Homo sapiens: one gene and its partners. The protein of the gene in region 4 interacts with the protein of the main gene of each other region in a biochemical or structural test. Each region holds a gene or a part of one and is shown on either strand. Other genes may lie near its edges.

The links.
Region 1: the proteins of G3BP1 (region 4) and HDAC6 form a complex in vitro, tested with the Homo sapiens proteins (one study listed by BioGRID).
Region 2: the proteins of G3BP1 (region 4) and LGALS8 form a complex in vitro, tested with the Homo sapiens proteins (one study listed by BioGRID).
Region 3: the proteins of G3BP1 (region 4) and UBAP2L form a complex in vitro, tested with the Homo sapiens proteins (one study listed by BioGRID).

What each region holds. Positions count from the first base shown.
Region 1 is NC_000023.11:48,806,205-48,813,966, reverse strand, and holds part of HDAC6 (protein deacetylase HDAC6), read right to left. Parts: exon of another isoform or gene 7,600-7,762; coding exon 7,503-7,599; exon of another isoform or gene 7,359-7,502; coding exon 7,261-7,358; exon of another isoform or gene 7,007-7,260; intron 5,935-7,006; coding exon 5,830-5,934; intron 5,710-5,829; coding exon 5,641-5,709; intron 1-5,640.
Region 2 is NC_000001.11:236,527,536-236,536,030, reverse strand, and holds part of LGALS8 (galectin-8), read right to left. Parts: intron 1-8,495.
Region 3 is NC_000001.11:154,261,024-154,268,714, reverse strand, and holds part of UBAP2L (ubiquitin-associated protein 2-like), read right to left. Parts: coding exon 7,606-7,691; intron 7,124-7,605; coding exon 7,018-7,123; intron 5,613-7,017; coding exon of another isoform or gene 5,563-5,612; exon of another isoform or gene 5,210-5,562; intron 2,215-5,209; coding exon 2,147-2,214; intron 1-2,146. UniProt on the Homo sapiens protein: Recruits the ubiquitination machinery to RNA polymerase II for polyubiquitination, removal and degradation, when the transcription-coupled nucleotide excision repair (TC-NER) machinery fails to resolve DNA damage.
Region 4 is NC_000005.10:151,795,784-151,799,699, reverse strand, and holds part of G3BP1 (ras GTPase-activating protein-binding protein 1), read right to left. Parts: intron 2,474-3,916; coding exon 2,272-2,473; intron 489-2,271; coding exon 387-488; intron 1-386. UniProt on the Homo sapiens protein: Protein involved in various processes, such as stress granule formation and innate immunity. Plays an essential role in stress granule formation.

The DNA of each region.
Region 1 (7,762 bases), on a different chromosome or scaffold from region 4:
GGAGCATGGGGCTCTTAGCTGCGGGGAGCCAGCTAAGGCTGAAAAGAGCCTCAAGCCAGGCTGGGGAGCTGGGTGATTCTCTAGCAGGAAGTGGAGAGACCTGGGGGGTAGGGGTGAGACTTGCTTCTGTGGGTGGAACTAGAGCGGGGGTGCTGGCTGGGGCTGTCATGAGGCCAGTGAAAGGGCAGTTCCTCCTCCCCAATGCCTTACAGGCCACCTCTACTACTTCTTCTATTTTATAGGCGAGAGAATGAGCACTCAGAGGGGTGAGTATGACCGACACGCAAAACAGATACTGAAAAGATGCGATGCACGTGTTTTGACAGAAAGCCCAGCAAGGGGCCATGGGAGGGCTTAATTCTGACTGGGGAAAGCAAAATGAATAATCTATCATCCATCCATCCTTCTATCTGGTCATTTACCCCCTGCTTTGTTCCAGAGAGGATCTAAGGCAGCTTTTTTAGGGAAATGCAAGAAATAGTGGTATGCATTGAATCTAGACAAACTTAAGAGTCACATTTTAATGGGTTGATAATGTAGTTGTGAAATTTAATGCAAGTGATATAGAAAGATTCTTAAAATTGAGGGAAAAGAGCTTGGAATTGGGGAATAAAAACAAGCAAAAGCTCTGGTGTTGAGTAGGTGGAGGATGATTGTTTTATTTTTGACATTGATAGATAAATCTTGGTTCTAAACTTTTAGTAAGTTAATCATTAGAGGAAGAGAAACACAGTAGGACATAAAAATTATCACCAGAGGGCTGGGCGCAGTGGTTCACACCTGTAATCCCAGCACTTTGGGAGGCCAAGGTGGGCGGATCACTAGAGGCCAGAAGTTCGAGACCAGCATGGCCAACATGGCGAAACCCTGTCTCTACTAAAAATACAAAAAATTTGCTGGGCGTGGTGGCGCGTGCCTGTAATCCTAGCTACTTGGGAGGTGGAGGTAGGAGAATTGCTTGAACCCAGGAGGCGGAGGTTGCAGTGAGCCGAGATCGGGCCACTGCACTCCAGCCTGGGCGACAGAGCATGACTCTGTCTCAAAAAAAAAGAAAGGAAAAGAAAAAAATATCATTGGGGAAGACAGGAAGAAAGAAAAGATCTGAAGAAAGCTGACTCTAAAAGAGAGCCATCAAAGTCAATAAACAGCAGAACTAGCACTCAAGCTAAGTTTAAAAAGAAAACAGAAGGGAAATTCAAAATAAGTTCAACCACCTTCAAGTTAAATGGTGGATTGATAGCACAGGTTTACTTCCTCAACCTCCTACTACCCCATTCAAAATACAGTAAAGAAATTGTAAACAAACAGCAACCCAGAAAGAGAGAGTGGAAAGGATGTCAGAGAATAAGAGACTTCAATGAATTTCTAGAAAGTAGACTTTGAGATTCCAGGGGCCCCAGGGTGCTCTGTCTCATGCTGAGCAGGATAAGGGGGCACCCAAGATAAGCTGAAGTTTCCTTTCTGGAGAAATCCAGTACAGATCCAGGTCAATGCACACAAAATCCCTTCTGAAGAGCCAACTCACTGAATCACCAATACAACAAAGTTACTTGTTTCTTTTAACTACTTAGTTTTAGATCATCTGCTTTCCTTGTCTTCACAACAGTATTTTAAGGATTATCCAGTTTGTCTCCCTGCTGCTGGAGTTCAGAGACTGAGAGATGGGGAGCTGGGAGATCCAAGGGCATGGACATGTTCTTTTTGTTTGTTTGTTTACACACGTTTGTTAATAAGGAAGAATGCACTGAATATATTCACAGTGTTTCACATCTGTGTGTGTAATCAATAGTGTACCCATGAAAGAACACACAGCTATAGCCTCCTATGCATTTATTCAAACAAAAAGAATGATTAATGATATTAAAGAATTCTTTGAATGACAGACCCTTGGCAGATTAAAAAAATAATTATTGTTAATTTTCAGGTATTGATACTAAGGTAATGCTTTTCTAAAAAAGTGTACTTATGTTTTAGAGATGCATTCTGAAATATTTACAGGAGAAATTATATGGTATCTGGGATTAGCTTTGAAGGAAAACAGGAAGAGGGCAGTGGGTACAGGTATAGATGAAATGAGATCGGCCAATGAGTTGATAAATGTTGAAGCATTAAATTCCAGAAGCCAGAAATGAACAAAATAAAGAACGTCGGAGGAAAACATTAATAAAGATAAAACCAGAAAAATTAATGAAGTATTAAAAACCCACCATAATAAAACAGTAGAGATGACCAACAAAGCCCAAAGCTACACTGGAAAAGATAAGTACAACAGATACACTTTGGAAAGGCTGAGGGAAAAAAGAGATGTTACCCCAAAGAAGAGGCCTCCTTTGTTCTGACATCTGGCAGGATCCCATCTAATGCCCGGGTCCTTGCCCACACTCGCTAAAGTTGCAACCTGTCAGTGGACATTCCCTGTCCCCATTCTGGGGAAATGCCTTTCAGGAAAACAGACCTACAAACACTGCAGCAGAGTAGTCCTCTGACAGCCCCCTACAATGGGCCTTCATTCTTGGGTATAAATAGCCAAATAAGGATTGCTAGACATTTGAGGAAAACCATCAGCATAAAAGAGAAGGACCAAGAAAAAAATAATTCAACCAGCCTCAGAATAAAGAGACATAACTCAGACAACAGAAGAAACTTAAGGCACTTCCTTTTTTGAGACAGGGTCTCCCTCTATCGCCCAGGCTGGAGTGCAGTGGCATGATCTTGTCTCACTGCAACCTCCGCCTCCTGGGTTCAAGCGATTCTCCTGCCTCAGCCTCCTGAGTAGCTGGGATTACAGGTGCGCACCATCACGTCTGGGTAATTTTTGTATTTTTAGTAGAGATGGGGTTTCACCATGTTGGCCAGACTGGTCTCGAACTCCTGGCCTCAAGTGATCCACTCACCTCGGCCTCCCAAAGTGCTGGGATTACAGGCATGAGCCACCGCACCCAGCCGGCACTTCTAATCCATACTCTATAAAAACAAGATCAGGTATGAGAGGACATAGAAACAGAGAGGAAGAAAGAGCTTTTGGAGTTTAACAGGATATCTAAATACATAATTCAACAGAAGGGCTTGAAGATAAAGTTGACAAAATCTCCCAGGTCACAGCAAAAGAAAAAAGAGACAGAAAACATAAGATAAAAAATAAGAAGCCTGGGCAACATGGTGAGACCCCATCTCTACAAAAGATTAAAAAATTAGCTGGGTATGCTGGTGTGCACCTGTGGTCCCAGCTACTCAGGAGGCTGAGGCATGAGGATTGCTTGAGCCCGGGAGGTCGAGGCTGCAGTGAGTCGTATTTGTGCCACTGTACTCCAGTCTGGGCAACAGAGCAAGACCTTGTCTCAAAAAAAATAAATAAATAAATAAATAAATAAATAATAAAAAAGAGAGAGACATAGAGGATCAACCCAGGAAGTCTAACATCTGACTAACAGAAGTCCTAGAAAGAGAACAGAGAAAACAAAGAAGAAATTATCAAAGATCTAATAGAAAATAATTTCCAAGAGTTTAAGAAAAGCATGAATCTTCAGATGTAAAATGTCTACCTACTATTAAACAGAGTGAAAAGGCCAGGGTAAAAGTTTAGAACATCAAGGCTAGGTACAGTGGCTCATGCCTGTAATCTCAGTGCTTTGAGAGGCTGCAGTGGGAGGACACTTGAGGTCAGGAGTTCGAGACCAGTCTGGGCAATATAGTGAGACCCTGTCTCTACAAATAATTTAAAAAATTAGCTGGGTGTGGTGGCACATGCCTGCAGTCCTAGCTACTTGGGAGGCTGAGGCAGGAGGATTGCTTGAGCCCAGGAGTTTGAGGTTACAGTGGGCTATGATCATGCTACTATACTCCAGCCTGGGTGACAGAGTGATACCCTGTCTAATAATTTAAAAAAAAAAAAAAAAGAACACCAAGATAACCTTGCAGAGAGGAAAGTAGATTACTTGGAAAGGAATGAAAAGCAGACACCTGTCAGGAACACTGAATGCTGCAAAATAATAAAGCAATGTCTAGAGAACAACCAACCTAAATTGGATTCTTCAGATCTTGGATAAGTGGATTCTCTGTAGTCAGCTAGGAAGAAGGCTAGATAAAACTACTACAGGTTGAGCATCCCTAATCTAGAAATCTGAAATCTGAAATGCTGTAAAATCCTAAACTTTTTTTTTTTTTTTAGATGGGGTCTCAGTCTATCACCCAGGCTGGAGTGCAGTGGTGCGATCTCAGCTCACTGCAACCTCTGCCTCCTGGGTTCAAGTGATTCTCCTGCCTCAGCCTCCTGAGTAGCTGGAAATACAGGTGTGTGCCACCACGCCTGGCTAATTTTTCTGTATTTTTGTAGAGACGGGGTTTCACCATGTTGGCCAAGCTGATCTTGAACTCCTGACCTCAGGTGATCCGCCTCGGCCTCCCAAAGTACTGGGATTACAGGAGTGAGCTACTTCACCCGGCCCTAAAATCCTAAACTTTTTGAAGGCCAACATGATGCTCAAAGGAAATGCTCATTGGGGTATTTCGGATTTTGGGTTTTCAGATTAAGGATGCTCAACCACTAAGTATAATATAAATATTTCAAAATCTGAAAAAATCTGAAATGTGAAATACTTCTGGTTCCAAGCACTTCATATAAGGGATACTCGACATGTACTTAGTAATGTCTCCTACTGACAAGGACTTGCTCAATCACTTTCTGCAGGAAGGGTAAGCTGGTCCCCTCCTGGAGGGAAGTCTGGCAGTGTATACCAGACTTTAAAGTATGCTGACTCTCTGGCCCAAGCAACCCACTGTTAGAAATTCATCCTACAGATAGACTCAGAGAAGTGCAGAATTACATATTTACTAGACTATTCACAGTAGAAGTGCCTGTAATAGCAAAAACTGGCAGGCATCTTAAAAGTCCTGGGGTTAAATAACCAGAGGTACAGTCATAAAATTGAATACTACAAAGAACGAGATACTTTAAGAGGTACTAACATGGAGAAATGTCCCAGATATGCTGTTAAATGAATAAAGCAAGTTGTCGAAGAACATGTGGAGAATTATTCCATTAGGCAGTGTGTTATTAATAATTATAACAATAATAATAAAAATTCAGACATCTATAGAGAAAATCTGTAAGGATATAACCTAAACTGTCAACACTTATTTTTGAGGTAATGGAAATTAGAGGAGACTCACTGCTTCAGACACTTCTGTATTATTTAATTTCTTTAAACAAATAGTTTGTTATTTATTTATTTATATTTGTTTTTTACTATCTACTGAAAGGATAAACAAACACTTTGAAGCATTATCCTAATCAGAAAAAATAAAGCAGTAATTTGAGGTTCACTCTAACCCAACGGTTAATCAGTGAATAAGATCTTCAAATATTTGTGGGTCAAATCCCGTCTCTCCCAGTTCTTCTCTGTGTGACCTCTTAACGTATAAGCCTCAGTCCCCCTATCTGTAAAATAGGGAACCCAACAGTCCCTGCCTCAGAGTGAAATTAGGAGAGATGGCAGACACACAAAAGTAGCACAGATCCTGATCCCAGGATAGGCCCCATGAATGTGAATGCCTTTTCCTCCTTCTGGACCCCTTCTGGCTGGGCCTGTAAGGGTGGGAGGTGGCTGGGAGTCTAGCACCTAGGTGGGAGTCGGGGTATACCTGGGGTCCTGGTCGAAGGTGAACTGTGTTCCTTGACCGTGGTGCACATCCCAATCTACGATAAGGACCCTAGGAGCAGCAGAGAGAGGGGACTCTGTGCAAGGAGATCAAGGTGAATCTGGGGGAAGAGCCCAGACCAGGACACCCCACCCCATGCCACCCCCATCACATCTGCCCTCTGTTGCTGACCTCCGGATGCGGTGTTTCTGTTGAGCATAGCGGGCTGCCACAGCCACGTGGTTGAACATGCAATAGCCATCCATAAGACTGTGCTGGGCGTGATGTCCAGGAGGCCTGGGCAAGACAAGGAAATAACAGCTTGGAGTATGTGAGGGGTCCTCCTCTGCAGAGACAGACTGTCCCCTGCTCTCTAATCCTGGACCACCAATTCCTTTAATGCTGATGCCTAAAAATCTGCCGGGAACTGAGTAATGGAGGCCCTCAAACTCTCACCCCCTGCCAATCTACCCCTCTGTCTCCAAAGGAGATTTGAAAATGTTCACTAAAATGATAAAGGCCGGGTGCGGTGGCTCAGGCCTGTAATCCCAGCACTTTGGGAGGCCGAGGTGGGTGGACCACGAGGTCAAGAGATCAAGACCATCCTGGCCAACACGGTGAAACCCCGTCTCTACTAAAAATACAAAAAATTAGCTGGGTGTGGTGGCGGGCGACTGTAGTCCCAGCTACTTGGGAGGCTGAGGCAGGAGAATCACTTGAACCTGGGAGGCAGAGGTTGCAGTGAGCCAAGATTGCATCACTGCACTCCAGCCTGGTGACAGAGCGAGACTCCGTCTCAAAATAAATAAATAAATAAAAATAAAAATAAAATGATCAACGCATTCATTCTCATACCCAGTCATTCTGCTGCAGGAACTTAGCCCACAACCTGTGTTTTAAAAAGGGTGAAGTAACATTTTTATTTTATGTTAGTGTAAAATAAAATTTTATTTTTATAAAGGTACTAGCATATTTGCTGTAGCATTTTTTTAAAACAGCAAATGACTGGGGAGAACCAAAATGCCCATTAGTCGGGGACTGATTAACATAGAGTGCATTTACACAATGGTGTTCTACCGGGCTCCAAGATACATACTGTTAGAGAAAGGTTTCCAAGATGTGTAAGTGAAAAGATGGTACGAAGGGAGTATGTCATGTTACTACCATTTGTGGTTAAAAACAGGGGAGGGAGGAGAAAGCTTTTGCATTTCATCAGTTCTGGGATGCCAATGATGATAAGATGTACCATGATTTTACATGCCAAAAACGAAGCAGAAAATACTGCCAATGGAATTCTGAGATGTCACTGTTTGTAAGATGCATCTGGATTTCAAGATGTTACAAATATGAAAAAATGTACACCTTAGAATCAATGAAATATGGTATTTATTTCTTGAATAAGACTTTGTGGGAGGACACATGAGTCAGTGGTTCCAATGACTACCTCCCATGAGAGGAGGCAGGTGTCTGGGTGACAAGGATGGGAGACAGATTTTTAATTATATTCTCTTTTTTACCTTTGGATTCTTGAATCACATGAATATATTACCCATATCAATACATTTTACACTTGAAGGAAGGACTTTAAAACAATGTAAAAAGTCAAATGCTGTAGAGTCCTACCTAATGATGGCCATGCCATTCCGGATCTCAGCCCCCAGGACCGCATCCACCAGCCTGAGGACAGAGCCTGAGGCCAGGCAGGCACAGGAGTATGAGTTCTGGAGAGACAGTGGGGAGCCAGAAAGGGAGTAAGGGAGAGAACAGCCCTATCCACTCAGCTGCTTCCCCCAGGGTGGGGTGGGCATAGGGATGGGGACCCCAAGATTGCCACCATTCCCTGCCCGCAGAGTTCTCATCCATACCGGATGCAGATAAACTGAGTCGTAGGTGTCTGCTAGGACACGGAGTTCTCCCTCATTCATGTACTGGGTTGTTTCCATCAGATCAATATATTCTAGGCTAGACACAGATGGGAGATGAGATTCAGGGCCCTGTCTCTTCCCCAACTGAGCTGTCCATACACCAACCCCCTGGTCAAATTAGGGCTTGGCTCCCCCAACTGTCAACCTGAAGGAATAGCCAGGATATAAGACACATTCTGTTTCTTCCCTAGCCCGCCTCA
Region 2 (8,495 bases), on a different chromosome or scaffold from region 4:
TGTAGCTTTGCCTAGACTGTGAGCTGCATGGGGCAGAACTGGCTCATCACCTTTACCTCCCCAGGACACAGGTCAAGAGACGATCGGTAACTGCATGGTGAATGAATGAACTCTCACCTGTCTGGAAAGTGGGCTCTGGCAGGCCTCACACATACAGAGGAGAGGCAACAAAGCAGCTGCTGAACCGCAAGCTGAGCCCACAAGCTCTCTGTTGCCTTAGGCAATAAGATGAGAAATTACGGAAGCCAATTATCTATTTGTTGTCATGGCAATTGCTAGGAGCAGGGTGGGAGGCACATGACACCAGAAAACAAAAAATACAACAGACAGTGTAGACTGGGGCTACAGCTGCACATCAGAGTATCTGATTTTGTGTGTAGAGAATGGGGAAGGACCTACATCCCTACATTGATCTTTTGGGTCACAGCTGGTTCCAAGAATATATAGCAGCAGGTTTCATAGCGTTAATCTCTTAATAAAATGAGAAGTTTTTATAACATCAAATTTCATCTTAAAATTATCTTTATGCAGAATATTTAATAACACAAGTTAGTAATATAAGTGAGAAAGTAATCTATAGAGCCATATATAGTATGATCTCAACTAAATAAATATAAACATTAAAAAGAAAACCTTGCTAATACACACTGTATCCTGTATCAAAATATGCCATATACCCCATAAATAGATATACCTACTACATACTCAAAAAAATTAAAAATTAAAAAAAGAAAAAGAGAAACACTAAAGAAATCAGACAAAAATGATAACAATAGTTTTCATGGGGGATGATGGGATTTTAATTTTTTTCTTCATATATTTTCATACTTTGCAGATGTCTATAATAAGCATCGATATTTCTATAGCCAGAAAAATATTTTTAATTATATGTTTCATTTTAGTGTTGGAAAGAGCTTTTTGAGACAAAACAATCTATTCCCATCACTTTTTTTTTTTTTTTTTTTTTTTTGAGACAGAGTCTCACTCTGTCCCCCAGGCTAGAGTGCAGTGGCGTGATCTCAGCTCACTGCAACCTCTGCCTCCCGGGTTCAAGCGATTCTCCTGCCTCAGCCATCCAAGTAGCTGGGACTACAGGCATGTGCCACCATGCCCAGCTAATTTTTTGTACTTTTAGAGAGATGGGGTTTTGCCATGTTGGCCGGGCTGGTCTGGAACTCCTGGGCTCAAAGTGATCCTCCCAAAGTACTGGGGTTGCTTTGGGAGGTAATGAGCTTTGGGAGAAGCTACCGCACCCGGCCCCCATCACTTCTAATACCTTGTTCACAACTGTTTATAGGTTGTTCCAGTTTGAGAAACAACTATGCTAAGAACGGTGGCCACTTGCTGCTTTAGTTTTCTGGGTTCATCATGCCTTCTACTTCAGAAAAGATCCTGCATTACTTCAGTAATACTTTTTTTTTTTTTTAACTATGAGACACAGTGCCCTGCCGCTGACTCATTTAACCCACGACTATGTGGCTTCTGTGAAAACGGAGGACATACATTGTTTTCTAGGCTACTCCAAGCTACTTTGGTGATTCACAGATCATTATTAATTTACATTTAAAAAATTAAAATACAGATCTGATCACACTGGAGACAATACCACAAGCTTACGCCACAGTCAGGTTTGCTGTTATTTCCCAAAACACCCTTGCTGATTCATATTGCTTTGCCTTTTTGATGATTAAATGCAAGGCTCTCTATTAGGCAGACTGCAGCTTGAAAGAAGCCTAAGAGTCAGACACCCAGGAAACATAACAGACACCCAGGAAACATGGAGTGAAAATGTGATACTCTATTTGGCTGCTGAAAATTGGTATCCCTTTCCATATCTGAAAATCCCCTAGCTTATGAACATTAGACCTCATCTAGACTGCAACAAGGTAAGAGCAGGTGACAAAACTGCCCATTAGAACTTCCAGCTCAGCTTTTAAGTAAGAACCAGTGACAAGAAGAAGCCACAATGACGCAGTATTCACTCTGGCAAGGGGGCAGCCGCTATATCTGGGTTTGGAGAAAGCTACATCTGGGGTCAAAGGCAGCTACATCCGGGGTCAGGGGCAGCTATATCGAGGGTCAGAGGGAGCTGCATCCAGGGTCAGAGGGAGCTACATCTGGGGTCAGAGACAGCAGTGGCATTGGTAGAGTAGCAGAGACACAGTACCATCTGTGTCCAGTGGTGACAACAGATGCCTCTTCATGGGAACCGTCCTACAGTATGCTTGTGTATCTGTGGCTACCTATTCTCCAAGCCTGGTTCTTCATCCTGCTAGAGATTCTGAGAACTCTGCACTATCATTTAGCAAATTCCTTTTCTGCTTAAAGAGTTGGCTTCTGTTGCTTGTAACTACAAACCCTGACCAATTCAACATCTTTAAAAAAAAAAAAAATGGGGGTCAGGCGCAGTGGCTAACACCTGTAATCCCAGCATTTTGGGAGGCGAAGGTGGGCAGATCACTTGAGGTTGGGAGTTGAAGACCAGCCTGACCAACGTGGAGAAACCCCATCTCTACTAAAAATACAAAATTAGCCGGGCATGGTGGCACATGACTGTAATCCCAGCTACTCAGGAGGCTGAGGCAGGAGAATCACTTGAACCCAGGAGGCGGAGGTTGCAATGAGCCGAGATCGGGCCATTGCACTCCAGCCTGGGCAACAAGCAAAATTCAGTCTCAAAGAAAAAAAAAAGGGTGGGGGAGCAGTAAAGAAGAGTCAAAGAAATGCTTCAGGAAAATGGGATAAGGAATTCTAACTGAGGTAGCCAAAGACAGTTTATGAAGAAGATATGATTTCAGTTGCCACTTCAGGTAGAAATGGCAGTTTACAAAAGCAGAGAGGCAGGAAAAGACAAGACCCATCTTCTCTCAGCACGCAGTCAGGGAGTAGTTAAAGAAAGGTACAGCCAGGGTCAGATTTTAGAGTGACATACGAAAGAAGTGTTTAGGAACAACAGTCCAGTGGGGGTGAAATAAGCCAGAGGTCAGGAGGTCATCTGGGTGACTGACTGCTGCCATAAGCCTGGCGTGAAACGATAAGGACACATTCCAGGTCAGTGGCAATGGCCCTGGAAGAGCAGAGAAGTCCAAGAGATGTTTCAAAGGAAACTGTCTACATAAGGCCACTAAATACATGACAAAGCTGGGGAGAAAACAGGTTTTTTGTTTTTTGTTTTTTGTTTTTCTTGAGATGGAGTTTCACTTTTGTTGCCCAGGCTGGAGTGCAATGGCGTGATCTCGGCTTACTGCAATCTCCGCCTCCCGGGTTCAAGCGATTCTCCTGCCTCAGCCTCCTGAATAGCTGGGATTACAGGTGCCTGCCACCACGCCTGGCTAATTTTTTTGTATTTTTCGTAGAGATGGGGTTTTACCAAGTTGGCCAGGCTGGTCTCGAACTCCTGACCTCAGGTGATCCACCCACCTCGGCCTCCCAAAGTACTGGGATTACAGGTGTGAGCCACCGCGCCTGGCCTGGGAGACAGGTTTCAGGAGGAAGATGACGAGTTTAGTTTGTAATACTTGGTGTGAAGCGTTGGCAGAGCATCTGAGAGCAAATCTGCTAAGACTTGGAGACTCAGAACCACACGCTAGGTGAATGGCCAGAGCACACATTTAAAAGTCAGGGTAAAGATCATTTGTAAAGATATCAAAGTAGATAAAGAAATCGAAAAGCAGGACAGGTCAGGCAGCAAAGGCTCGGTGGTTTCTAAAATTAGGAGGTATGCAGAAAAGAATTAACATTGGCAGGCCTGACTGCTGTCCTGGAAAGGCCTCCTTACGAGGCAGGCCCCTGGCTGGTGTCTGGGAACTTGGGATTTGGGAAGGGCACCCACCAACCTAACTGGTAACGGGGATTTCCTGTACCTGAACTGTTCATGCAAATAATATGGTTATGCTAAACACCTGCTTTCCTTCTGGGGGACCAGAATTTTTTGATATGTGTGAGGGTGCTTATGTGACCAGCCTCCAGTAAAAACCCTAGGCACTGAGGCTCTGATGAGCTTCCCTGGCAGTCCACATTTCACAAGTGTTGTCACAACTCCTTGCTGGAGGATGTAAGCACATCCTATGTGACTCCACTGGGAGGCGACCTTGGAACTTGCACTGGATTTCCCCTGGAATTCACCCCAGGTGCCTTTCCGTTTGCAATTTTGCTCTATATCCTTTCACCGCAATAAATCATAGGCACAAGTACAACTCTATGCTGGTGAGTCATCAAAACTGGGTGTGACCTTGGGGACCTCAACATGGGGTGAGAAGAGAAAGGAGAGAGAAGAATCAGTCAGGCCAGGGCAATAATATCAAGGGAGTCAATGGATTTATAAATTTCAGTAAGAGGAAAACTGTCAATATCTTTAACATTGAAGAAGCTAAGAAGGATCCAAGCAAATAAAGATAATAAAATGGGGCCGGGCGCGGTGGCTCACACCTGTAATCCCAGCACTTTGGGAGGCTGAGATGGGTGGATCACAAGGTCAGGAGATCGAGACCATCCTGGCTAACATGGTGAAACCCCGTCTCTACTAAAAATACAAAAAAATTAGCCAGGCGTGGGTGGCGGGCGCCTGTAGTCCCAGCTACTCCGGAGGCTGAGGCAGGAGAATGGTGTGAACCCGGGAGGCGGAGCTTGCAGTAAGCCAAGATCATGCCACTGCACTCCAGCCTGGGCGACAGAGCAAGACTCTGTCTCAAAAATAAATGAATAAATAAATAAAATAAATAAGTAAAGAAAATGGATCATACCCTCTGACCTAGTGATTCCACTTTTACAGATTTATCCTACAGAAATACGTAGCACAGGCACACCAAGATGCACACACAAGGATGTACACTATAGCACCGGATATAATCGCAAAAAGACACAGCCCTTCACAAGGGACTGCTTACATAAGTTTTACTGCTAATTATGCAGCTGTTAAAATAAATGAGGAAGTTCTAAATAAAATGACATTTCCAAAATAGGTCAAATAGAAAAAGCAGGGTAGAAAACAGTTTATACGGTAAAATGCATGCACGTAAAGAGACAGGATATATAAAAGGTGATATACACAACACACACACTTTTGGATATTCATAAGTATCTCAGGAAGGATATATTTCTAAAAACCAGTAAAAAGTGATTGCCCTTGGGGAGTAAAACTAAGTACCAGGGTAGAAGGAAAATGCATGTTTCACTGAAACTCTTAAATACTGTTTGAATTTTAAAAAAATGATTTGCACATATTATCTTTAAATTTTTTTAAAAGGAAAAGCCACTGGTTTGGACATAAATGTAGTTTAAAATTTTGAAGACAGACTATCTTCCAACTATTGGGTGCTAGGAAACAAGGGAGGAGGCAAAAGTTAAACAGCAGAAGGATCCTGCTGCAGAAAACTGCAAGAGGAAAGCTGGTTTGGGAAGGAAGATGCAAGTTTGGTTTTGAACTCCTAGTCTTGAAGGGCTGGCTGAGCAACTGAGAGTTGGGGGTTCACATTAGGTGAAAGGTTGGAACTGGATACATATGGAAAAAAAAATCTATGAGTGATCGGTAAAGACATAAAAGAAAGAGACATTAAAGACAAAATTTCACTAGTAAAACCAAAAAAGAAAAGAGAGTGAAAAATCAGAGGGCAGAGCCTTAGTGAGGAAATCCACTCTCAGTCAGGAAGGCAGGCAGCAAAAAGAGAAGAAAAACAGCACAAAGGCTAGAAGGTATCTCACAGGTTACAAAAGAAAGACTTGACTGTGTTGTGTTTTAAGACTAAATTGTAAGGTAAAAAAGGAGTACTTAGAATACTAAGCAGAAAAGGATAAACATGGAAGCAAGGTTCCTAAGAAAACTGGGTACCAGGTAGGATTTATGTTGACAAGCAACTTATTAACTTGGAGTAACAACCAATTCTGTTTCATTTCTAAATGATTTCTTAACCAGCTAGCATTTAATCATATCTTAAGAACTCTATAAACAATAGCAAAATTAAATATATAGGTAGATAATGAACTGCCAAACAAGAAATTTCACTGGCAGCATTCCTGGTATGAAGTAAAGATACTGTCTTCCAAATTATTCATTCAAATTCAATAGAAAGAAAAGTAAGTGGCCAGCCACGGTGGTTCACGCCTATAATCCTAGCACTTTGGGAGGCCGAGGCGGGCGGATTGCCTGAGCTCAGGAGTTCGAGACCAGGCTGGCCAACATGGTGAAACCCCGTCTCTACTAAAATACAAAAGAACAATTAGCGGGGCGTGGCGGTGTGCGCCTGTAGTCCCAGCTACTCGGGAGGCTGAGGCAGGAGAATTGCTAGAACCCAGGAGGCAAAGGTGGCAGTGAGCCGAGATTGCACCACTGCACTCCAGCATGGGCAATAGAGCAAGCCTCCATCTCTTAAAAAAAAAAAAAAAAAGAGAAGAAAGAAAAAAAAAAAAAAACAGAAAAGGAAGCCTAACTTTTTTTTTCTTTTTTTTTTTTTGAGATGAAGTATCACTCTGTCGCCCAGGATGCAGTGCAGTTGTGCAATCTTGGCTCATTACAACCTCCACCTCCCGGGTTCAAGTGATTCTCCTGCCTCAACCTCCCATGTAGCTGGGATTACAGGCCACCGCCACCATGCCCGGCTAATTTTTGTATTTTTAGTAGAGACGGGGTTTCACTGTGTTAGTCAGGCTGGTCTCGAACTCCTGACCTCAAGTGATCCTCTCGCCTCGGCTTCCCAAAGTGCTGGGATTACAGGCATGAGCCGCAGCACCCGGACTCTGACTTTTTATTTTTATTTTTGAACATGGTTCTTGCTCTGTCACCCAGAATGAAGCACAGTGTCAAACTCACAGCTCACTGCAGCCTCAACCTCCTGGGCTCAAGCAATCCTCCCACCTCACTCTTCCTCATAGCTGGGACTACAGACATGCGCCACAATCCCCAGTTAATTTTTGTATTTTTATAGAGAGACAAGGTCTCACTATGTTGCTCAAGCTGGTCTTGAACTCCTGGGCTCAAGTGATCCACTAGCCTTGGCCTCCCACAGTGCTGGAATTACAGGCATGAGCCTCTGGACCCAGCCTTAGAGCCTGACTTTTTTAAGTCTTGGAATTCTATCAGTTGAACTAGTCAAAGAAATATACTAAATAGGGAAAAAAATACATAGGCCAGTTGCAATATTTACTTCATCTTTTCCAAGAAAACTTAATGTGGACAGTTGGTCTAACACCAATGTGGACCAAAATATTAGAAATAGGCCAGGCATGGTGGCTCATGCCTGTAATCCCAACACTTTGGGAGGCCGAGGCGGGAGGAGTGCTTGACCAGACTGAGAAACATGGCAAAACTCTGTCTTTACCAAAAAAAATACAAAAATTAGCCAGGCATGGTGGTGCATGCCTGTAGTCCCAGCTATTTACAAGGCTGAGCCCAGGAGGTGGAGGTTGCAGTGGGGTAAGACTGCACCACTCCACTCCAGCCTGGATGACAGAGCGAGCCTCTGTCTTAAAAAAAAAAAAAAAAAAAAAAATTGGAAACATTAATGAAATAAAAATTAAAAAGTGGCGGTGTGTTTATAATGCCTAATAAAGAATACAACAGACAATAAATATATTTACTTATTGAACCTATCAGTAACAAAACAACCATGATTCAAGAAAACAGGTTTTGTGTGTGGGGGGGTTTTTTTTTTTTTGAGATGGAGTCTCGCTCTGTCACCCAGGCTGGAGTGCAGTGGCACCATCTCGGCTCACTGCAACCTCCGCCTCCCAGGTTCAAGTGATTCTCTTGCCTCAGCCTCCCGAGTAGCTGGGATTACAGGAGGCTGCCATCACGCCTGGCTAATTTTTGTATTTTTAAGTAGAGACGGAGTTTCGCCATCTTGGCCAGGCTGGTCTTGAACTCCTGACCTCGTGATCCACCTGCCTCGGCCTCCCAAAGTGCTGGGATTACAGGTGTGAGCCACCATGCCCAGCTGAAAACCGTTTTCCTAAGTCTAGCTTATAAAATATACTAATTGATTATCTTTAAATAACTAAGTTGGCCAGGCATGGTGCCTCACGCCTGTAATCCCAGCACTTTTGGAGGTCAAGGTGGGCACATCACCTGAGGTCAGGAGTTTGAGACTAGGCTGGCCAACACTGTGAAACCCCATATCTACTAAAAACACAAAAATTAGCCGGGCATGGTAGCACGTGCCTGCAGTCCCAGCTACTCAGGAGGCTGAGGCACTAGAATTGCTTGAACCCGGGAGGCAGAAATTGCAGTAAGCCGAGATTGCATCATTTCACTCCAGCCTGGGTGACCAGAGGGAAACTATATCTCAAAAAATTAAAAAAAAAAAATTAATTGAATAAATAAAATAAGTTATTTACAGCCTTTTTTTTTGGAACATTGAAAGGGCAACTAGCTACAAATGAGAGAAATTCAGTGCAATACAGGCCCTTTATACTATAAATATTTTACAGCAGTGAAACGTAAAGAGAGCGCAAAATGTTTTTGCCATTCAGTTCAGTCTACCTCTAACCTTTCCGACTCTTTT
Region 3 (7,691 bases), on a different chromosome or scaffold from region 4:
AAACTAGTCTTGGGATTTTTCCTGAGCTCAAGCTCCCTGACCCTCAGAAAGCAGCATGGTGTCACAGAAGGCACAGTACACTTGAAGTCACATATTCAGGTCTCAGTCTCAGCTCTGCTCTTATTTAAGAACTGTGTGAACCTGGGCATACTACTCAATCTCTTAGCCTCAGTTTCCTCAGATATAAAACAGGGATGCTACAAACCTGTTGTAAAGACCAAATAGGCTGGGCATGGTGGCTCACATCTGTAATCCCAGCACTTTGGGAGGCCAAGATGGGTGGATCACACAAGGTCAGGAGTTTAAGACCAGTCTGGCCAATATGGTGAAACCCCGTCTCTACTAAAAATACAAAAATTAGCCGGGCATGGTGGCGGGCGCCTGTAATCCAGCTACTTGGGAGTCTGAGGCAGGAGAATCACTTGAACCTGGGAGGTGGAGGTTGCAGTGAGTCAAGACTGTGCCACTGCACTCCAGCCTGGGAGACAGAGGGAGACTCCATCTCAAGAAAAAAAAGAAAAAAAAAGGCTGGGCGCAGTGGCCCATGCCTGTAATCCCAGCATTTTGGGAGGCCAATGCAGGCGGATCACCTGAGGTCAGGAGTTTGAGACCAGCCTGACAAACATGAAGAAACCCCGTCTCTACTAAAAACACAAAATTACCCGGGCATGGTGGCACATGCCTGTAATCCCAGCTACTTGGGAGGCTGAGGCAGGAGAATCGCTTGAACCCGAGAGGCGGAGGTTATGGTGAGCCCAGATCGCACCATTACACTCCAGCCTGGGCAACAAGAATGAAACTCCGTCTCAAAAAAAAAAAAAAAAAAAAAAAAAAGACCAAATAAGAGGATGGAATGTGGAAGCACTTTGTAAAACTGAATGTCATATGTGAACATCATGAAATCCGAACTTAGAACTCCAGGCTGGGCATGATGGCTCACATCTGTAATCCCAGCACTTTTGGGAGGCTAAGGCGGGTGGATTGCTTGAGCCCAGGAGTTCGAGACGAGCCTGGGCAACATGGCAAAACCCTGTATCTACCAAAAAACAAAAATACAAAATACAAAACAAACAAAAAACAAAAATACAAAAATTAGGCAGGCCTGGTGGTGTACACCTATAGCCCCAGCTACTCAGAAGGCTGAGATTCCACCACTGCACTCCAGCCTGGGTGACTTCTTGAGACTGTCTCCAAAAAAAAAAAAAAAGGCAAACCAATAGTGTCCCTACCCCTTCCAATATTCCTTACAAAAATAGTAACTCCGCTGGGTGCAGTGGCTCACGCCTGTAATCTAGCACTTTGGGAGGCCAAGGTGGGCAGATCATGATGTCAGGAGTTCGAGACCAGCCTAGCCAAGATGGTGAAACCCCGTCTCTACTAAAAAATACAAAAATTAGCAGGCGCGGTGGTGGGCACCTGTAATCCCAGCTACTCAGGAGGCTGAGGCAGGAGAACCGCTTAAACCCAGGAGGCAGAGTTTGCAGTGAGCCGAGATCACACCACTGCACTCTAGCCTGGGTGACAAGGCAAGACTCCATCTCAAAAAAAAAAAAAAAAAAAAAACTCGTTGGATATTTCAAAAGAAATAAACACATACTGAGATATTTGAAGTGCTGAAGGTCTTGTGCATGAAGTGCCCCCCCAGACCCCCAGTGCTTTATAGCAAACTTTAAGTATTTATGGTGATGGGGGATAAAAGCAACATAACAAACCTGTGGATCACTCAAATGCTTCATTAGTTACTAGGTCGTCTCCTTTCCCACTCCCACTGTTATAGATTTACTCAAAGAATGGAATGAACTAGTTTCCTGTCACTCTCATACTTATTCTCTTGAAAAGTTATGAAAAAGGTTGGGAGTAGGTAGGAAAAGGGGCCAGGAGAGTTGCACAGTAAATTACATGACACGATAAACAATTTGCCACGCTTTACCTTCCTATTACGTTTCTCGTTTTTTTTCTCAGAGGGCTAAATTTTAACTTCTTAGAGGAAGTGAAGTCTAGAGAAGACCTTTCATTTAGAAAAAGTAGGATGGGTTTCCTGCCACCTCTCCTAGGGTTCTTCTTGTCCACTGTTATTTCTACCATTGCAACTCCACCTCCTCTATGTCTATCTCTTTTCCACTTTTATCCAGAGCCAGGCACCTACCTGGGTTTTGGAGTACACAGAACCCGAGATATCTGGCACGCCCGTGTTACTGGAGGTGACTGAAACACCTGGGGGAGGAGGAAACAGACAGGAGGATTAGCTCAGCTAGCTACCTGGCCCTTATTCCTGAGATGAGGTGATATCTGTAGCCTTTCTAGCTATACCAATGCAAGGGAATTTTGGTCGGTTTTCCAGCTTCAAGTTAGTCCTGAGAGGTAAGAGTTCATGAAACAAAAGCTCCCTAAGGGTTCTTTGGCCCTTCCCAGGTACGTGTTGAGTATACGTGAGAGAGAGTGAGGTAAGTTGTTTTTTGGTGGGCAAGGGGATATGACCAAACCTCACTAGCATACACTGTTTTCAAAACACTTCTGTGCCAAAGTCTAGCAGGAATATAATAAACTTTTAATTTTAATGTCCATTTCAAATCAATCCACCCAAATGCCACTCAGTTTTATTCCTGGAGACTGGGGCAGTCTGGCCCTCTCTCTTCCTGAAGTGACATTTCTGGGCTCAAAATCCATGCCTCCACTGCATAAGTACTAGAGGAGCAGTCCACTTTAATCCCCAAGGGCACTCTCATTCTCAGAGCCTCAGCTCAATTAGTCCAGCTTCTTTAGTCTTGGAGCATCTAGGCTAAATCTTCAAACTTAAGATGTAAAGGTCTAGTATCAAGATCAATTTCCATGTACACAATTTAAGCCTAAGTGTAGCGGGGTGGGGAGGGATAGGTAGACAGGAGTAGGCCATCTCCTATAGCCTAGGTGGAACACAAAAACCACGTCATTTTCAGTATACAACTTCAGCTTCTCCGTAAGATAAAAGCTCTCATACCCCAACTCTCATATTTCCTGTTGAAAAAAACTCCCTACTAACCACTACAACTTTAAAGAAACCAGAGTAGTACAACATGTCATTCTAATTTGTACTCCTCAAACAAATAAATACTCATACTATATTCCATCACCTGGGGTATAAGGCATCGGGTCAAGAAGATAGGAAAAGCCATGAAATAAATAACCTAACATCTTTTATACTTTCCATTTTGAAACAAAGATGTGAAGAAAAGTAAGTAATTTAACTAGGAATATAAAGCATGATTTTAAAAAGATATATTAGTTTTTATAAAAATAAAACAAAGCTTCAGAAAAACTTTGCCTGTCTATGCCCTTGGATCCTTCCCATCAGAGGTACACATTTCCTTCTCCTCTGCTATCAGGAACACTGATGGAAAAGAGTTTTAGAAGCAGTGTACTAGAGTGGCCAAATCACAAATAAGGAATCCTCCATTCACCCACAATTCAAACTCTAGAACCTAAATCCTCCCAATGCCTCAGACAAAGGCAGCCTTCCAAAGTTAAGCCCACCTTGAACAGTCACTTTTGAAGTGGTATCTTAATCTGGAAAACCTTCCCAACATCCTAAGTCCAGATAGTTCCTGGGAGGGGCAAACACTAACTAGGAAAAATAACGGAACTACAGAAAACCAAGCAAGAGAAAATACTTCCTCATCTCCGAAGCATCAACTGTCTAAAGACACTGAAGTAAAAGAAGGGAACGATACAGGAGTATCTTAAAGGGCTAATGGGGTATTTTTTCCATTCCCTTTTCAAACCCGAGGTGCCCATCTGGCAAATCACTGAGTAACAGGCATAACTTTTAAGAATAGGAAGTTCAGTTATGGAAAAGGCTTAAGCTAGTAAGTTCATGTGGAAGGGTGGAGAGTAAAGGTGGAATAAACAGGATATAAGTAGAACATTTTTAAGTCAAACCAAAAGAGAGAATTTATCTTTACTGCAAAGGCAAAAAAAAAATAAAAAAATAAAAAATAGCATAGTTGGTCACCTTCTGCAGTGAGGCTAGGCTGCCTATATTGGATGGAAGAAATGACTAACTGGATTCTCAAGCCGAGTGGTAGGGAGGAATTCAGCTCCAGTGTGCCCCTACCTGATCTCATTCTTTCCAGAGTTTAGGCTAAAAACAGCTTCTAGTCCAGAGGCCTTATCTTTGATATGAGGTTGAAGGGACTGAGAATGCAGGAACCATAATACTCTGTAGTAGCCATAATAATCTCAATTACAGTATTAGAGACCTAGAAAATAATGGGTACTGATTTCACTACCCCTCACCAGTTATTAGGAAGATCTTCAGACTACAGAGTTCTCTTGCTTTCCTTCCAACATCAACACCCCCTACTTATCCCCAAACAGTGACAATACCAGAATCACGTGGGCAGCAGGGCAGAGACACATGAATCTATCTCTCCCACCATGGCAGCCCCTGGGAAAGGTGGTCACACTCCACAGAGCAAAATTACTCCAAAGGGCTGGGAACAAATACAAGGAAAGCTGAATACTTTGGTTTCTAATTCACCCAGGGTGGTGATCTCACTGTCCACGTTAACTTTATAAACAAAGGGCTAATGTTGTATGCTAGCTGGACTGGGAGGGAATTAGAATTTCCATAGTCAAGGAGATATCTGACCAAACCGCTCCTGCACATCCTTAGCTTATACCCACAAATGCAAAACTGGTAATCCACGATCTCTGAAAAGCCATCAAGGGACTAAGAACAATGTTCCAGGATAGCACAGTCGCCACAGAGCCTGAGTCATCAACTAGCTTATCACTAATGACTTTATCAGATCTTAGCCACTTGGCCTTTAGGAACCAGATAGATGTGGGAATTAAGCCTTGAAAGATACTTCTCTAACAGCTCTGAAAACTCTCTCTTTTGCCTTTCACCATGACATGACACTCCAAACTTTTTTGTCCTTTCCCCCACTGCTTATGTAAGAGGCAAAGGAAAGATCTAAATGGAAAAATGAAGCAACATAAGCATGGAGAATCAGGTATTTCTACAAATAGTTTCCTTTACCAACTAATCAACAGGTGGGAAACTGAGGCTGTTTCCCCTCCCCCCACCTTCATAAAACCACCATACTGAAAAATTAATAGTTCTTTGGCTATGCTGGGGTTTGATTAAAAAGGCCACCCTCCACCCTTCATCCACAGCACAGCATTGGTTCCTAGTGTCCACAAAGACATGCACGGAAAGAACGCCAGAGTTAGCTAAAGAAATACCACAGTTTATTGAAGACTACAAATATTTTTGTTACAAGTTGAAACTACATGCCTTCCAGAAATCAAAAGCAACAGCAGGTGTGTGCATTGATGCTTCGAAGGTGCTGCACCGCTTGAACTTGAAATGGGTAAGACAGGGTCAGACACATGGGGGAGAGGGAAATGGGGGAGGGGCAAGTTCAAAAGCCCAGAAGGTATCCACCAACTCATTTCCCCAAGCCACGCAGGCCATGGCCTCAGCTCAGCAGGCTCTCCTCAGTGGTCTGGTTTCTGAAACAAGACTTCAGTGCAAATTTATACACACACACAAAACACAGCCCCCAGCCTTGGGCCAAATTAGCTCTCAGCCGTCCAGAAATGCTTGTAAGGGGGTGGATATTTTCTTCCTAAAAGGAATCAAATACATAAAAATAAATGAATGGAATGACAAAAGCCCTTTGTGGGGTTGGGAACTGGGGGTTCTCAAGGGCTGATATAATACGTTTCTGAATTCTGAAGGGAGGCAAGAAGGTGGGATTTCTAGAATCAGGTATGCCAATTCTCTTATATTATCCATCACCTACCTCTTAAAATTCGTGAACCTGGTCCAACTAAGACTTCAACCTAATGTCCTCAGAAAGGGGCCACCACTCCAAGTCAAAAGGCTTATAATCCTCCCCACCAAGATTTAGGGTGAACCTTGCTCAATGACAGGGGTGGCCACAAGGAGTCTATGTATTAAATCTCAATGGGGCTTCTCAGGATTTGTTTAATTTAACTCATGACCCACTCTAACTCATGCAGCACAGTTCAAAGCTCCACTTGGCTATCAGTTCCTAGCCCTTACTGCCTTCTGTGCTCTTCCCAATTATTGAAAACTGTGGGCAACTGACCCACCCAGAGCCCACATAAGGGTGAAAAACACATGCTGCTCTATCCAAATCACCATGAAACTGTAACTGAGCTGACAGCTTTGAAGGACAACCCCCATCCCCAACCCTAAGCAATCAGAGAAACCTACTCCTCCCCTATTCATCTACAAGTCGCTGAAAAGGTACAATTATATTATTCAAAGATTCCTTCTCACTCCCTGTCCTCCAAAAGTAGAGCACAGATGTCAGGTATGGAAGCAAGGGAGAGGCTGAGTATCTTTTAGGTAAGTACCCATCCAGAGGATTCCTACAATTCCCTCCCTGCCATCACATATGCAAAAAGACTTGCAAAGAGACCAGCCATACAAATGAAGGAACCTAAAGGCCCAACTCTCCCAGTCCAATTCCCACTCTATTAAGTATGGTCACGCCTACTCCTTTTTCTCCACAGTTTAGGTCTTCTAGCTAGGGAATAAAAAAGGACACATAAGAAAAGTAGTGCTACAAAGTGATTTAAGCCAAACCTATCGTAGGCTGCTAGCTATGAACCCATTTAATCCTTCTACTCAGTGAATACACCCCCCTTTTGTACTATCAGTGCCATACATACTATTAACACTTGCCTCCACTGACATTTCAGCAAAATCTTGGGGCTCCTTGCCCTACTTCCACCCACACTTTTGGCCAACCAACATATTCTAAAAACCAACACATACTCTTGGGCATTCCCGTCACAAATAGTGGACACATGTCCTAGTATCAAGCTCCTCTGTTGGTGCTGCTCCCACAGATACCCAAGTCAGCCAAGCATTAACAATCATACCTGGGGCAGCGGCACACCCTCACCAATCCCATTTTCTCAAGCACCAAGTCTTCCTCCCTGAAATTTATCCAATAACACCCCACAGATAACACCGAGCCAGAGACAAGGTCAGCTTACCAGTGTTGTATCCATGAGACCCATATCCACTCGGCTGTTGGAAAGGGGTGGCCGATGCATTCACACTGACATTCACACCATGCTGCTTGGAAGAGGTAGGAGCCACCTAAAGAGCAAAAAGGCCAGATTTGCAGTGACTTGGCAGCAGAATACCATCTGTCCCACTTGTCCTGCTCCAGGTACTGGCCATTCAGATGGCTACCTATCCTGATGCAAGTTGACTACAGTTTGCTTAGTGAAATTAGCTCCTTACTAACTGTTCTAGAATCTACTAATGAAGTCAAGAAATGGTAGTTTGGAGGAAGAAAAAGGGACAATGGCAGCAGGGAATGAATGAATCTGAGTGAAGCAAAGCTGTATGGTATCATATTCTCCCTTTGGCAAATTCTAAGACTAGGCAATCCCTATCCTAATTCCACCAATTCCAGCCCCATTCCCCCACCACCCTGCATCAGGCCAAAAACAGGCCAGAGGTGGAAACTGTTCCTCCTCATCCATTATTAAAGTCATTGACCCTTAAAAGCAGCTAGGATAGTGTCCAGGGCTAGGATCCTTCACCACAAGGAGTGACCAAAGCCAGGTACTCACAGGGAACACAGCAGGCCCATACTGGAAGGTGCTGGGGAGGCCCGGGACCCCTGTATAGTATGGCAGGCTGGTGTAACTGTAGCCAG
Region 4 (3,916 bases):
TGGTTTTTTTTTTTTGAGCCAGAGTCTCAGTATGTCGCCCATGATGCAGTGCAGTGGCACAATCATGACTCACTGCAGCCTCAACCTCCGGGACTCAAGCAATCCTCCCACCTCAGCTTCCTAAGTAGCTAGGACTACAGATGCATGCCACAAGGCCCAGCTAATTTCTTATTTTTTGTAGAGACAGGGTCTCACTATGTTGCCCAGACTGGTTTCAAACTCCTAGGCTCCAGTGATCAGCTGGCTTCAGCCTCCTAAAGTGCTGGGATTACAGGCATGAGCCACACTGCACCTGACCAGTTTTCACATTCTCTAAACCTCTGTTGAATCAAATTACCACAATAGAAGTAAATTTGCCTAATGTACAAGTTTTATTAGGACCTTACCTGTGAAGCTGGTACTTTAACAACATGAGGTGGTATCCCAGTAACTGGAACAGCTCCACTGGGTGGAAGATTCTTACTGGTCACAGATGCCCAAGAAAATGTCTAAGGGAGCAATACCAACATTACATAATTATACCAGGTATCAAAACAATATAAAAGCTACTAACTCTTGATTTCCTGTACAGAACAAACGGTAACACATTCTCATAGGCAGGATGGAGTTTATATATATATATTAAGATTCTTCTCTTTCAGCTATTCAAAATTTAGTACTGAAATTCCTTGGGACTGATGATCAAGTACCAAGCAAATCCGAGAGGCTTAGGTTCAAGAAACTACTCACTTTTTTTTTTGAGACAGAATCTTGCTCTGTTGCCCAGGCTGGAATGCAGTGGCATGCACACAGCTCATTGCAGCCTACATCTCCTGTGCTCAAGTGATCCTCCCACCTGTTTCCCAAGCAGCTGAAACTACAGGCATGTGCCACCATGTCCAGCTATTTTTTCTTTTTAGTAGAGATGAAGTCTCACTATATTGACCAGGCTGGTCTTGAACTCCTAAACTCAAGCAATCCTCCTGGCCTCAGCCTCCCAAAGTGCTGGGATTAAATGCGTAAGCCACAACGCCTGGCCCAACAAAAGCTACTTTCATTCAAATCTGTGAATCAAACAAAATTCCCTCTCCTCCAAAATCAGCTCAGCTCTTCCTACTGTGATTCCATCCAATCCATTGTACAAACATCGACTCAATTACATCAATTGTAGAATCATCATAAACACCTTTCTCGCACATTTAAAAATCGCCAGAACCTGTTATTCTACCTAATTATTTCTTTTCCATTTCCACTGCCACAACTCTAATTCAAGCCATCATTCTCTCTCACTAGGGTTACTATAATAACCAACTAAGTGGTCAGCTGGTCCAGCCAACCTACTTTTCCACTTGCTTCTTATGGTTTTGTTCTTGTGACAAGGTCTTACTCTATTACCCAGGCTGGAATGCAGTGGCATAATCATAGCTCACTGCAGCCTTGACTTCCCAGGCTAAGCCATCCTCCTACCTCAGCCTCCCAAGCAGGTGGGACCACACATAGGCACCACCATGCCCAGCTAATTTTTTCCACTTGCAAGCTAAAGTCATTTCAACATTGCTCTTTCCTACTCACCTATTAGCTGCCAGAGAACAAGAACCCCTATCTGTTTTGCCAATATAAAACCTACACTTTGAACAATGCCTAACACACAGCAGGAATTTGAATTATTGAACAAACAAATGACATAACCCTGAGCCTATAAACACAGCACTAAAAATTATATTCCTTTCCAGAGCACCAAATGCAAAGGTTTCAACGATAGTTCAGTTAACAATCACCCTGACGAGACTCAGAAGGACAAACTGAAAACTTCTGAAATCAGGTATGCCAACTAGAAAAGAAGTTTTACTTCAGCAGTTCATTTCTACTTCCACTATAAAGTTATCTTCAATAAAATTTCATAGAAAAAGTATATTCTGCCATGTTATTTTTCTTGAAAAGATGTTATGCACTTGTAGTAACAAGTATGTAATAATTTATAGTGTAAAAGATTAAATATTAAATAGAAAAGGAATCACTGATAGGGTGCTACAGTGGCACCTAAAATTTCTGGTCTAACAGGCATTCAAGTTACCTCGGGGAAGGGAGTGGTTTCTTTTGATGAAATAAACTAATACACATCTTACCTCTCTCTTATCAAACATATGGCTCAATATCTAAGAAATTTCCCTGAAATGAACCACCAATATGAAAATGTATCTACAAGTCAACCAAACAGCAATACAAAAGAACAGAAACTTTTTTTAAAAAAAATAACTAGGAATAGAATAAAAATGAAGACACGTTTCATACCCTCAAGTCTTCCTGTACTGTCTGAGCTATGTCTGCAGGTGCTGGAGAAGAACTCTTCTGAGCATCCTCAGGGGCAGTTTCTTCTAATACTGGCTCAGGCTTTTCCTCTTGGATTTCAGATACAGGTTCTTGTTCTGGTTCTGGTTCAGGATCAGGCTCTGGTTCAGCAACAGGCTCCTCTAAATGTTCTTCCATGTCATTACTTTGACAGGAAAATTTGAGAAATATCATTCTGCCACCATTTATTTCACAAAAAATTCCTCCATCATTTATTAATCAGAAACCAGAACACAGAGTTAGCTCCTTCTATCCAAAACAAAAATCTAAGAATTGTATATCTATCTGAGTTTTTAAAAAGTAATTTTTAAAATGCCACTCAATAACTTAACTGGAATCCATTTGTTTGGCAAATTCTGATAAGCAAATGAATCAGGACATCAAAATGAACCAAACCACTTTATGGCTGGAATCCCACAACTATTACAATTCATTTAGCATACAACATCAGAAAAACTCTCAAAATAGGCTGGGGCGGGGGGGGCGGGAAAGAAAGTTGCCATTCAATGGGTATAGTCTGTTTATAAGGTATATAAAGTTATCTTCAATAAAAGTTGTAAGGTGAAAAGTCCTAGATATCTGTCATAGAACCACATCTATACAGTTAACACTACTGTACTTTACACTTAAAAATGGTTAAGATGAAAAAAAGGTTAAGATGGCAAATTTTATGATATGTGGCTTTTAACACAAACACACAAAAACTCTTTCAAGCACATAAGGAATTTGGGGGAGAAAATAGTTATGATTCAGAATACAATTCTTAAAATTCCACATAAATCAACCAGAAATGCTGTTAAAACTGCAGAGGGGGCTGGGCACACACCTGTAATCCCAGCACTTTGCGAGGCCAAGGTGGGCAGATCACCTGAGATTAGGAGTTCCAGACCAGCCTGGCCAATATGGCGAAACCCCATCTCTACAAAAACACAAAACTTAGCCGGGCATGGTGGCGTGCGCCTGTAGTCCCAGCTACTCAGGAGGCTGAGGCAGGGGGATTGCTTGAATCCAGGAAGCGGAGGTTGCAGTCAGCCAAGATCGCGCCACTGCACTCCAGCCTGGGTAACAGAGCAAGACTCTGTCTCAATAGAACAAAAACAAACAAAACTGCAGATGTTTTGCCTCCTGAAAGTCTAATTCGGTAGGTTTGCAGTGGGACCATGAATCTTCATTTTCAACCAGCAACCCAAGTGAGTAACCTGATTAGTTCATCACACCTTAAGAAACACTTGAAAACACCCTTCAGGCACTGAATATTAACATTCAGTATCACATGGTAACAAGTAAATATGGATTTCTATTGCTATCAAACACATTTCTGTTCTAATCACAAGGGGGAAAAAACCCAAAGGTATAATGATGCACTTACTAACGTAATGAAATTCTTTATTGCTACTTAACTCACATATTGGTATTTATATCAATTTATGCCCGATCTCTAATTAAATAGGTCTCTGTCCACTTCATATTCCCTCAAAGCATTTAATACCTCAATACATTCAACTCTTGATAAACAATATGCAAGTTTTCACTTAACACCAAGAAAAAACTAAACCAAAAAGAAACTGATACTATTTAAACTAAGCAA